2 separate regions of the Homo sapiens genome follow, and region 2 is linked to region 1. Evidence: fine-mapped expression QTL. A gene starts in region 1. The other region holds a variant in brackets. All regions are shown on one strand. Distances are between the middles of the regions.

Region 1 (5,359 bases):
GACCAGCCTGGCTAACATGGTGAAACCCTCATCTCCAATAAAAATAACAAAAATTAGCCGGGCATGGTGGGTGCCTGTAATCCCAGCTATTCAGGAGGCTGAGGCAGAAGAATCACTTGAACCCGGGAGGCGGAGGTTGCAGGGAGCCGAGATCACACCACTGCCCTCCGGCCTGGGCGACAGAGCGAGACTCTGTCTAAAAACAAAACAAAACAAAACCCAACCAAGCAAACCCCACAGAGTCGAGAATCGCTAGATGGAAGGGGATGGCCCAGGTCCCTGGAGCCCCTGTGACAAATTACCACAAACTCGGTGCCTTAAAGCAACGTTCATTTTCTTACATTTCTGGAAATGAAAAGTCCAAAATCAGGACTGCGGGGCTGAAGTCAAGGTGTGTGGAGGCCTCGCTCCCTCCAGAGGCCCTGGGGCTCCTTCCTGCCTCTCCCAGCTTTTGAAGGCTCCAGGTGTGCTTGGCCTGCGGCCACATCACTCCCGTCTCGGTCTCTGTGGTCGCACTGCAGCCTCCTCGTCTGCCTGTGTGAAATCTCCTCCTGTCTCCGTATTGTGACCGCGTTTAGGATGCCCCAGGACAATCTTCTCCATATCGTTCAGATCTTCATGGTGTCAATATATTGAGACTCTTTTTCCAAATAAGGCAAATGTCACATTCTAGGGATCAGGGTGGGGACTTACCTTTGGGCCAACCACAGAGGCTACAAAGAGGAAGACACCACTCAATACAAAGCGTGCGCCAGCCCAGCCCTGATCGGTGTTTGTTGTTGTTGTTTTTGTTTGAGACAGAGTCTCGCTCTGTCGCCCAGGCTGGAGGGCAGTGGCATGATCTCAGCTCATTGCAACCTCCGCCTCCTGGGTTGTATAGATTCTCCTGCCTCAGCCTCCTGAGTAGCTGGGATTACAGGCGTGAAAAGGAGCAAGGCTCTGCCCCAGCCACAGCGCGGATGCACCTTGAGGATGTCATGCTCAGTGAAAGACGCCAGACACAGAAGGACACACAGTGTGTGATCCCCTTTATATGAAATGTCCACAACAGGCCCATCCACAGAGGCAGGAAGGGGATGTGTGGGTGCCGGGGGCTGGCAGAGGGGATGAGTGACAGCTGATGGGGCTTCTTCTTGCGGTGATGGAATCTTCTGGAACTAGACAGTCGTGGTGGTTGCACAACTCTACGAGGTACTAAAATCACTGAACTGGCTGGGTGCAGTGGCTCATGCCTGTAATCCCAGCACTTTGGGAGGCAGAAGCAGGTAGATCACGAGGTCAGGAGTTTGAGACCAGCCTGGCCAACATGGTAAAACTCTGTCTCTACTAAAAATACAAAAATTAGCTGGGTGTGGTGGCAGGTGCCTGTAATCCCAGCTACTCAGGAGGCTGAGGCAGGAGAATCGCTTGAACCAGGGAGGCAGAGTTTGCAGTGAGCCGAGATCGCACCACTGCACTCCAGTCTGGGTGACAGAGCCAGACTCCGTCTCAAAGAAATAATAATAAAATAAAATCACTGAACTGTACAGTGTAAGTGGGTGAATTGTGTGGTATATGAGTGATGTTTCCGAGGTGTCATTAAAGAAACTCAGACGCCTGGGGTGGGGCCAGTCTCACCGCTGTGGGTCCCATCCCCATCATTTCTCACAAGGCCCTCAGATCACCCTTCCGCGGTGGGGGGCGGACACTCTAAGAAGGGAAGACCTGGGCTCCTGCTGGCGAGAAGGCGGTGGACATTTCTTCAGTGTCTGGTGCCGCGCCCTCTGCCCAGCGTGCTCCGTGGAGGGTCTCATTGTCTTCCTCCAGACGTCTCTTTACTGGCCCATTTTACAGAGGCGGAACCGAAGCTTGGGGTGTTGGCCACAGGGCTCTAGTGTGGGAAGCCAGGCCAGGCTGGACCTCAGCCATGGGGACCCCTGTCCCTGAGACTGTGGCACCTGCCACACCCTCTGTGTGACCCGCCTAAGCCAGGAAGAGAGGGTCAGGAGATGCCTGAGCCACCAAGAAGGCATCCCAGCGTCCAGCCAGACCGGTTATCCCTCCAGAGGGCTCCCCGGCAGGACAGGCTGGTCGCCATGTCTTCAGCCTGGTGCTATTTAAAGGTGGGTGCCACCTGGGGCTGTGGCCGCAGGGCCAGGACTGGGCTGCTGGGAGCTGTGTCCCCACAGCGGAGGTCGCCGCCCCTCTCAGGCCTCGGTTTCCCCAGTTGTCAATGCCTCCACTTGGCTGTGAGTCTGTGAGGGTCACTGTGCTCACCTTTTGGGGCCCAGCGCATGGGGCAGGCAGAGGAAGGGTGGGGGCCAGCCGCCTTGCTGGGTGGTTCCCCGTGGGGCCTGGGGTATGGCTCTAAGGGAGGAGCAAGTGTGGGTGCGAATGGGGCCGCCCCATTCCTGCCGCCTCCGACGTGCCCCGCCAGCCGGCCACCGACAGGTCTACGTGGCTATCCTCCCTCCTGCCCACCTACCTGCCCAAACACACGTCCCCAGTCGTCACCTGCCCACCCACCCGCGCATTCCCACACCCTTGTGGGCCTGGCTTTCGGGAAACTACAATTTGCGGGGAGAGAAGTCCCACGAGGGCATGCCCCGGAGCCTGGCTGGTCCCACGGCTGACGCACGCGGCAGGACCTCCCGTGTCCATCTCTGTCCCCAAGCATCTCCGCCTCTGCCCCTCTCTGTCTCTGTGTCTCTCTCGTCTCTCCCGGTCATCTTCCTTGTGTCTCTTGACTGCCGCCGTCTTTCTGTCTCTGTCTCCCTCCGGGTCTCTGTCTCCCTCCAGGTCTCTGCGGCCCGCGTCTCACACTCCCGCCCCCGCAACCCGAGGTCCTAGCCCGCCCGGGGACTCGGCTGACTCACGGACACGCCCCGCGAGACAAACAACAAACGCGCGGAGGCCGAGCGCGGAGTCCCGCACGGCCGCGCCCCTGTGCACCTGGCCCCCGCCCCCGAGACGTCCCATTGGCCGGCGCCCTAGCCTGGTCCCGCCCAAGTGGACCCCGCCCCCGCCCCGAGGCACCCCATTGGCCGGCGTCCCCGCCCCAGCGAACCCGGCCCCGCCCCCGAGGCGCCCCATTGGCCCCGCCGCGCGAAGGCAGAGCCGCGGACGCCCGGGAGCGACGAGCGCGCAGCGAACCGGGTGCCGGGTCATGCGCCGCCGCCTGTGGCTGGGCCTGGCCTGGCTGCTGCTGGCGCGGGCGCCGGACGCCGCGGGAACCCCGAGCGCGTCGCGGGGACCGCGCAGCTACCCGCACCTGGAGGGCGACGTGCGCTGGCGGCGCCTCTTCTCCTCCACTCACTTCTTCCTGCGCGTGGATCCCGGCGGCCGCGTGCAGGGCACCCGCTGGCGCCACGGCCAGGACAGTGAGTGCGGGGCGGCGGGGGCCTGGGGTGGGGAGGCGGCGGGTGACGGCAACGCGGCCGCCGTCTTCACGGTGACCTGCGCCCGCGGGGGAGTCCCGGAGGCTCCTCTGTGCAGCCTCGGCCTCAGTTTCCGTGGTCTGTGAGATGGGTGCAGCCTGCCTGGTGGGAGGGTTGCACTGTTAAAGCGAAGGCTGCAGCGGCGGACCCGGCTCAGGGGCAGAGAAGCGTCCGTGTGGTACAACCCTGTGGGTGGGGCCACCCATCTGCAGGTGGGAAACTGAGGCTCCAGAGGGGCTGGGGCAGGCCCAGCTGCATGGCGGAAGCGGCGGGGGGCTGACCTCCGGACTCCTGACATCACAGAATCCAGTCAGGGCTGCCTGAGTCGGGGCCCCCTCTGCTTCTTCCCAGACACCCCATCTGGCAGGTGAGGACAAGGAGGCACACAGAAGGGATGGGACCTGCCCAGGGTCACACTGACAGGGGTGGCGGAGCTGGGTCCCCACAGGGCCCAGGACGTCACGGAGCGGGCGTCTCTGTCCCCAGGGTCTGCCGAGCACACTGAGGTAGGCCCTCAGTGTTTGTGGAATGTCAGGAGCAAGAGGAGAGGCTGGGCACAGCAGGGGATGTGGGTACCTGGAGGCCAGGGGAGTCGGTGTCCCCGCCGGGCGGGGGGCACTGGGAAGGGGGCCCGGGCCCGCTGGCTGCCGCCTGAATCACCACCATCAGGGCAGGTAATCACCCCCTGTCCTTCCCACCGCTTTCATCTGGGCGCCAAGGCCCTCATTAGGCCGCACGTGACGAGGGCGGACAGGGGACTGGCTGGGCCGGTCCATCCATGGCGGGCATGGCCAGGCGGGGTGGCCTCGGGCCGGGGCAGAGGCCTGGCTCCGCTGCCTGACCTGGAACAGTCTCTGCCTCTCTCCAAGCCTCGGTTTCCCCAGCTGGACGGTGATGGGGGTGAGGGCTAGCTGAGGGCTCTCCTGCCCTTCGTGCATTCGCTGGTCACTAATCGGGCACCTTGTGGGTGCTGTGCTCCGCATGGGGGACCCAGTGGTGACAGAGACGCCCACCCTCCTGGGGCTCCCAGAGCAGAGGCGCGCAGCAGTTAGACACGTGAACAAGGGCGCAGGTGGGTGCACAGAACAGTGAACGGTTGGCCGGGTGCAGTGGCTCACGTCGGTAATCCCAGCACTTTGGGAGGCCGAGGCGGGCAGATCACGAGGTCAGGAGATCGAGACCATCCCGGCTAACACGGTGAAACCCCGTCTCTACCAAAAATACAAAAATTAGCCGGGTGTGGTGGCGGGCGCCTGTAGTCCCAGCTACTCGGGAGGCTGAGGCAGGAGAATGACGTGAAGCCGGGAGGTGGAGCTTGCAGTGAGCTGAGATCGCGCCACTGCCCTCCACCCTGGGCGACAGAGCGAGACTCCGTCTCAAAAAAAAAAAAAAAAAAAGAACAGTGAATGACGTGAACAAGGGTGCAGGTGGGTGCGCAGAACAGTGAACGGCGGTGTTGGGAGGCACCTTGCCAGGGGAGGGGAGGTGCAGGGCGAGGAAGGGGCCAGGGGAGATCGTGACACAGACGCCCCAGAACAACCACCTCAAAGACGTTCCTGTGTGTCCTGGAAGGTCGGGCTGGGAGGCTGCCCCGAGGAGCTTTCACTTTGACAGGGAGCTGGCCGGGCACGCAGGGAACTGTACACCCAGCTGACAAAGCGGCAGACACCCAGGCCGGGGTGAGCGAGTGTGGGTGAGGAGTGGCGGCTGGCCCCAGGGTCCTTGCTGGACAAGACACTTCAGCTCAGGGTGGGGCAGGGCTCACCCAGGGCTACCCACAGACGATGGCGTCCAAATCTGGCTCTGCCACTCCCAGGCCTCAACTGGCCCCTCTGCAACGTGGGCTGCTGAGCGGGCTTGGTAGGACAGCTGGCATACAGTCGGCGCTCAAGCATGTCTGTGGTGTCCCATAAACCACCGGTGTCCCACTCTAGGCCACTGCC
Region 2 (5,359 bases), 22 kb before region 1:
GGAATGAAGACCATGGCTGAAACGCAGGACAGGTGCGACGGAGTGGTGTCAGGGAGCTCCCTGGTGTACAGTAGGAAGCTCTCCACAACTTGCTCTATACAGTGAGTATGCAACCCGTTCCTGAGTATCAGGTGCTTAGGTTATAACTTCTGTATACAGCAGGTGCTCAGCACAGGCTGTGTACAGGCAGGTGTTTTCGGTATGCCTGTGGCACACTGGAGGCAGTCATTACATAATCAGCGTATACAGGTGGTACACATGCATACTTGGTGCACAGTGATACCTGCTCCATGTACACAGCAGGCATTAAATACCTGTTTACTGCCAGGCGCGGTGGCTCACGCCTGTAGTCCCAGCACTTTCGGAGGCCAAGGTGGGTGGATCACGAGGTCAGGAGATTGAGACCATCCTGGCTAACATGGTGAAACCCCGTCTCTACTAAAAAAAAAATACAAAAAATTAGCCGGGTGTGGTGGCGGGCGCCTGTAGTCCCAGCTACTCGGGAGGATGAGGCAGGAGAATGGTGTGAACCCGGGAGGTGGACCTTGCAGTGGGCCGAGATCGCGCCACTGCACTCCAGCCCGGGCGACAGAGCAAGACTCCGTCTCAGAAACAAAGCAAAACAAAAGCCCTGCTTTCTGTATGCAGGTGCTTCATGCATGCTGGCTGTGCATAGCAGGTGCTCAGCCTGTATATGGCAGGTACTCAATATCCATACTATAGGCCAGAGATGCTACATATGTGCTTATTGTATACAGTAGGTGGTAAATGCATGCTTGCTCTACACGGCAAGCACTGTGTGCGCACCCGCGGTGCAGAGTAGGTGCTCGGTGCCCGCTGTACGCAGCAGGCGCTCCCTGTGCACACGCTAACGCCCCCTCTCCCGCAGGCAAGAAGAATTCCATCCTCCTGCACAAGGTGCAGCATGACCTCAACTCGGGCGTATTCAACAACCAGGAGAACGCCATCATCCAGGAGATCGTCAAGTACGACCGCGAGATGGTGCAGCAGGCCGAGCTGGGTCAGCGCGTGGGCCTCTTCCCGCCGCCGCCGCCGCCGCCGCAGGTCACCTCGGCCATCGCCACGCTGCAGCAGGCGGCGGCCATGAGCTTCTGCCCGCAGGTGGCGCGGCCGCTCGTGGGGCCGCTGGCGCTCGGCTCGCCGCGCCTCGTGCGCCGCCCGCCCCCGGGGCCCGCACCTGCCGCCGCCTCACCCGGGCCCCCGCCCCCCGCCAGCCCCCCGGGCGCGCCCGCCAGCCCCCGGGCACCGCGGACCTCGCCCTACGGCGGCCTGCCCGCCGCCCCCCTTGCTGGGCCCGCCCTGCCCGCGCGCCGCCTGAGCCGCGCGTCGCGCCCACTGTCCGCCTCGCAGCCCTCGCTGCCTCACGGCGCCCCCGGCCCCGCGGCCTCCACACGCCCGGCCAGCAGCTCCACACCGCGCTTGGGGCCCACGCCCGCTGCCCGGGCCGCCGCGCCCAGCCCGGACCGCAGGGACTCGGCCTCACCCGGCGCCGCCGGCGGCCTGGACCCCCAGGACTCCGCGCGCTCGCGCCTCTCGTCCAACTTGTGACCCTCGCCGACCGCCCCGCGGGCCCAGGCGGGCCGGGGGCGGGGCCGTCATCCAGACCAAAGCCATGCCATTGCGCTGCCCCGGCCGCCAGTCCGCCCAGAAGCCATAGACGAGACGTAGGTAGCCGTAGTTGGACGGACGGGCAGGGCCGGCGGGGCAGCCCCCTCCGCGCCCCCGGCCGTCCCCCCTCATCGCCCCGCGCCCACCCCCATCGCCCCTGCCCCCGGCGGCGGCCTCGCGTGCGAGGGGGCTCCCTTCACCTCGGTGCCTCAGTTCCCCCAGCTGTAAGACAGGGACGGGGCGGCCCAGTGGCTGAGAGGAGCCGGCTGTGGAGCCCCGCCCGCCCCCCACCCTCTAGGTGGCCCCCGTCCGAGGAGGATCGTTTTCTAAGTGCAATACTTGGCCCGCCGGCTTCCCGCTGCCCCCATCGCGCTCACGCAATAACCGGCCCGGCCCCCGTCCGCGCGCGTCCCCCGGTGACCTCGGGGAGCAGCACCCCGCCTCCCTCCAGCACTGGCACCGAGAGGCAGGCCTGGCTGCGCAGGGCGCGGGGGGGAGGCTGGGGTCCCGCCGCCGTGATGAATGTACTGACGAGCCGAGGCAGCAGTGCCCCCACCGTGGCCCCCCACGCCCCATTAACCCCCACACCCCCATTCCGCGCAATAAACGACAGCATTGGCGCCAAGCCTGGCCGCGTGTGATTGCCCGAGACCCGCAGGGCGTGCACCCTTCCTGAAGACAGTGGCTCCTGGGGGTGGCAAAAGAGCTTTATTTACACACTGACAAGGCTCACGGGGTGTCAGCTGAAGAAGTAGGTGGAACGCTTCACCTGCTCCAGGTCGAAGGCCCCTGCGGAGGAAGCAGAGCGGACGGCGTGGGTGGCGGGAAAGCCCCGCCCTGGCCCGCAGTTCGAGCCACCCTTGCGAGGCTGCCCACCCGCCTACCTGGCTTGGGCACCGCCTGCAGTGTCTCCTTCAGCTGGCTGGCCTCCAAGATCTTCTGGGGCCTGGGGTTGGAAGCAGGGTGGGGTGAGGCTGAGGCCAGGTTTTGGGGTGGGGGGGGAATCCAGGTAGTTGGGGTCAGGGAGCGCCTTACTCAGAGCAGAACCGCTTGACCAGGAATCTGGACAGGTCCTGCAG[G/A]ATGGGCTCGCTGTGCAAGCGGACAAACTGCTCCCGGCACACCTGGGCAGGAGTCAGAGGATCCCCAGGGGTGATCAGGCAGGCTCTGGGCACCACCCCTACCCAACGCCCCAGTGTGGGGGCCCCACCCATGGGTGGACTGAGGCTCAGACTACGGGGGCACCTGGTTCATGACGGAGACATCAGCTGCGTGAGTCCAGTAACAGTCGTGCACAGAGACGAAGGTCAGGCCCTTCCTGTGGCAGAGCGGAGGACTCCTGAAGGGAGGGGAGCTCACAGGGCCACCCAGTGACCAGCATCCTGGCCCTGCGCTCAGCCCCCTCCACTTGAGGTCCAGGGAAGCCCACCCTCCTGCAGGCCTCGCCCCACCCCTCGCCCCGCCCCTCCCCAAACATCCTGGGTTAGGTATCAGTACAGGGGGAGGAAATGTTCCCAGAAGCCTCCTCGCCCCACCCCTGCCGCCCCCCACGCTGCTGTGGGAGCCTCAGCTCCGAGGGCGGCTACGAGGTCCCCTCCTGCCAGGGCCACCACCCCGCATCCTGAGCATTCCCAGCTCCCGTGGCCGGTAGATTCTGCTGGAACGACCTCCACGTGCTCCAGATCTAACCACACATCGCGGTGCCAAGAAATGCCCAGCAGGAAGGGGCAGCGCCCATGCTCGGCTCTCCCTGTCGGGCCACAGGAGGGGAGCTGCCAGGACCACCTACATTCGGGGCACACAGCCTCAGGGCCTCTACACAGGCCCCACAGACACAGCAGATCCACTCTGCCCAGTCCCTGCCCCCAGCTAGACCCAGCCTTGCCAGCTGTGCCCTGCTAGCCAGAAGACGCCCCTGGGAGGCGAGCGGCACCCACGCCGTCCGGAGACGCCCACCTGTAGCAGTGCAGGGCGGTGAGCATCATGTGGGAGGAGTCCAGCGAGTGGATGAAGTTGGGCGGGAAGCCGTTCTTCTGCTTACGTGTGTTGGGCTTTCTGAGGACGGAACAGGTGCCGGTGGGGGCGGCCCAGGGACACCCCTAACTGGCCGCTGTCTCCACCGTGGCTGCTCTCCAGACCCCCGGCCAGGCCCCAGCCCGGGCCCCCCACTCACCGGCTGATGTCTCCGTTGTGGGTGTAGGTGATGCTCTGAATTCCACCTCCTATTTGCTAAAAAGGGGAAGGGGCCGGTGAGTCCCACCCGAGGCCCAGCACGGTGGTGGTACATTGAGGTGGTGGTACACTGGGGTAGTGGCACGCTAGGATGGTGGCACACTGGCGCGGGATGGGGTGGCACACTGGGGCGGTGGTACACTGGGGTGGTGGTACGCTGGGGCACTGGTACACTGGGACGCTGTTACACTGGGATGGTGGCACACTGGGGAGGGATGGGGTGGTACACTGACCTTGACCTTGGAGTCCAGGCGATAGGGCTGGATGACGGGGACGCCCAGGGGTGTGACCCACTCCACCACAGAGCCCATGTGGGAGATGAGGCGGGCACTCTCGGTCAGCCAGTGCTGTGGGACACAGGCCGTCTCAGGGCAGGGGGCTCAGGCCGGGGATCCCGTCCACTTGCTTAGGGAGTCCTGGCCGAGCGGGGACAGGACAGGACGTACCTGGATGGCCCGGGTCCCCGAGAACATCTCCTGTAGACTCTTGAAGACCTGGCGTACGAGATAGTGAGAGGCCTCCCACACGAACTCCTGCAGAGGGCGGGCAGCAGGTGCAGGTCCTCAGGGGCTGGCCCGTTCACGCCCTACTCCCCCCTATTTCAGAGCCACTGAGGCCCAAGGCCTAGGGCCTAGCAGGGGGGCAGGGGAATGGGGCCTGGCGCCCACGCAGTCAGCAAGAAACGCCCAAGCCCTAACAGGCAGCCAGTGGTCTGGGGGAGCAGCCAGGGCTCCTGCTGGGAGGCTGGGTCGGGGGCACACCCGTCTGAGTTTTAAATGGCAGTGAAACCAACGTGTTCGCAGCGCGACATGCCTGGCGCACCTGGGGAAAGTCGCTCAGCTCCCGGAGGCGCTTCTCAATCTGCAGGCGCCCGCCATAGCGCGTGACCCCGTACACCACCGTCATCACCGTCTGCTTCACCACCTTGCGGGTGATGAAACCTTCCAGCACCTGTGCCACCCGCATGCCCCGCTGGGCGTCCTGCCTACGGAACACCTCCACCTGCACGGCGGGTGGGCCGGGGGCGCGGGTCAGCCCCGCTAGCAGCCCAGGGGCCACCAAGCACCCATGAAGCCCCCGCCCCAGCCCCACCACATCCTCAGGACAGGCCAAGGTGAGGGCACCTGGGGCCGAGACTCAGGGCTCACATTGCCCCCACGCCGAGATGCCCCCGGGCAGCAGGGCACACCCTACCTGCGCGGCCACGCCGCTGTACACGTCCTGCGGCACATCCGAGGGCTCCAGGTTGACGGAGGCGGCGCCCACGCTGTCGCGGCCCAGAGCAGCATAATGCTGCAGGCCGTTGCAAGAGCCGTCCTGAGGAAGGGGCGGCAAACGGGAGATGGAAGCTAGAGAGGCAGAGACGTGTGGGACCCCAAACCACCCCCCAGGTCGAGCCGTTCCTAGGGCCGTGCACCCCCCAGCCAAGTGCACCGGAGCCCCCGCACGCTCCCGGGAGAGACCAGGAGCCATGGCTCCCGCACACTCTAGGACCACCTCC

Evidence for each region. PIP is the estimated chance that this variant, and not a neighbour inherited with it, causes the effect. A credible set is the group of variants that fine-mapping cannot tell apart.
Region 2: its variant is the best candidate, but not a certain one, in a credible set for the expression of FGF22 in esophagus mucosa (GTEx, PIP 0.66).

Annotation. Positions count from the first base shown.
Region 1 is chr19:636,781-642,139 of GRCh38, forward strand. It overlaps FGF22 (fibroblast growth factor 22), which reads left to right and starts at 3,099. Exons shown (of 3, transcript NM_020637.2): 1 at 3,099-3,359. The coding sequence starts at 3,146. It overlaps LOC105372234 (a long non-coding RNA gene), which reads left to right. Exons shown (of 2, transcript XR_936226.2): 2 at 1-1,526. RefSeq lists enhancers at 281-340, 1,715-2,440 and a silencer at 2,782-3,271.
Region 2 is chr19:614,906-620,264 of GRCh38, forward strand. HCN2 (hyperpolarization activated cyclic nucleotide gated potassium and sodium channel 2) reads left to right here. Exons shown (of 8, transcript NM_001194.4): 8 at 890-2,254. The coding sequence ends at 1,569. It overlaps POLRMT (RNA polymerase mitochondrial), which reads right to left. Exons shown (of 21, transcript NM_005035.4): 12 at 5,053-5,175; 13 at 4,681-4,860; 14 at 4,305-4,391; 15 at 4,092-4,205; 16 at 3,800-3,855; 17 at 3,583-3,681; 18 at 2,872-2,944; 19 at 2,665-2,750; 20 at 2,514-2,575; 21 at 2,316-2,418. The coding sequence ends at 2,369. Among named protein-coding and RNA genes, the nearest start is that of POLRMT, 16 kb to the right of the region's middle. The variant G/A (reference allele first, on the strand shown) is at 2,709.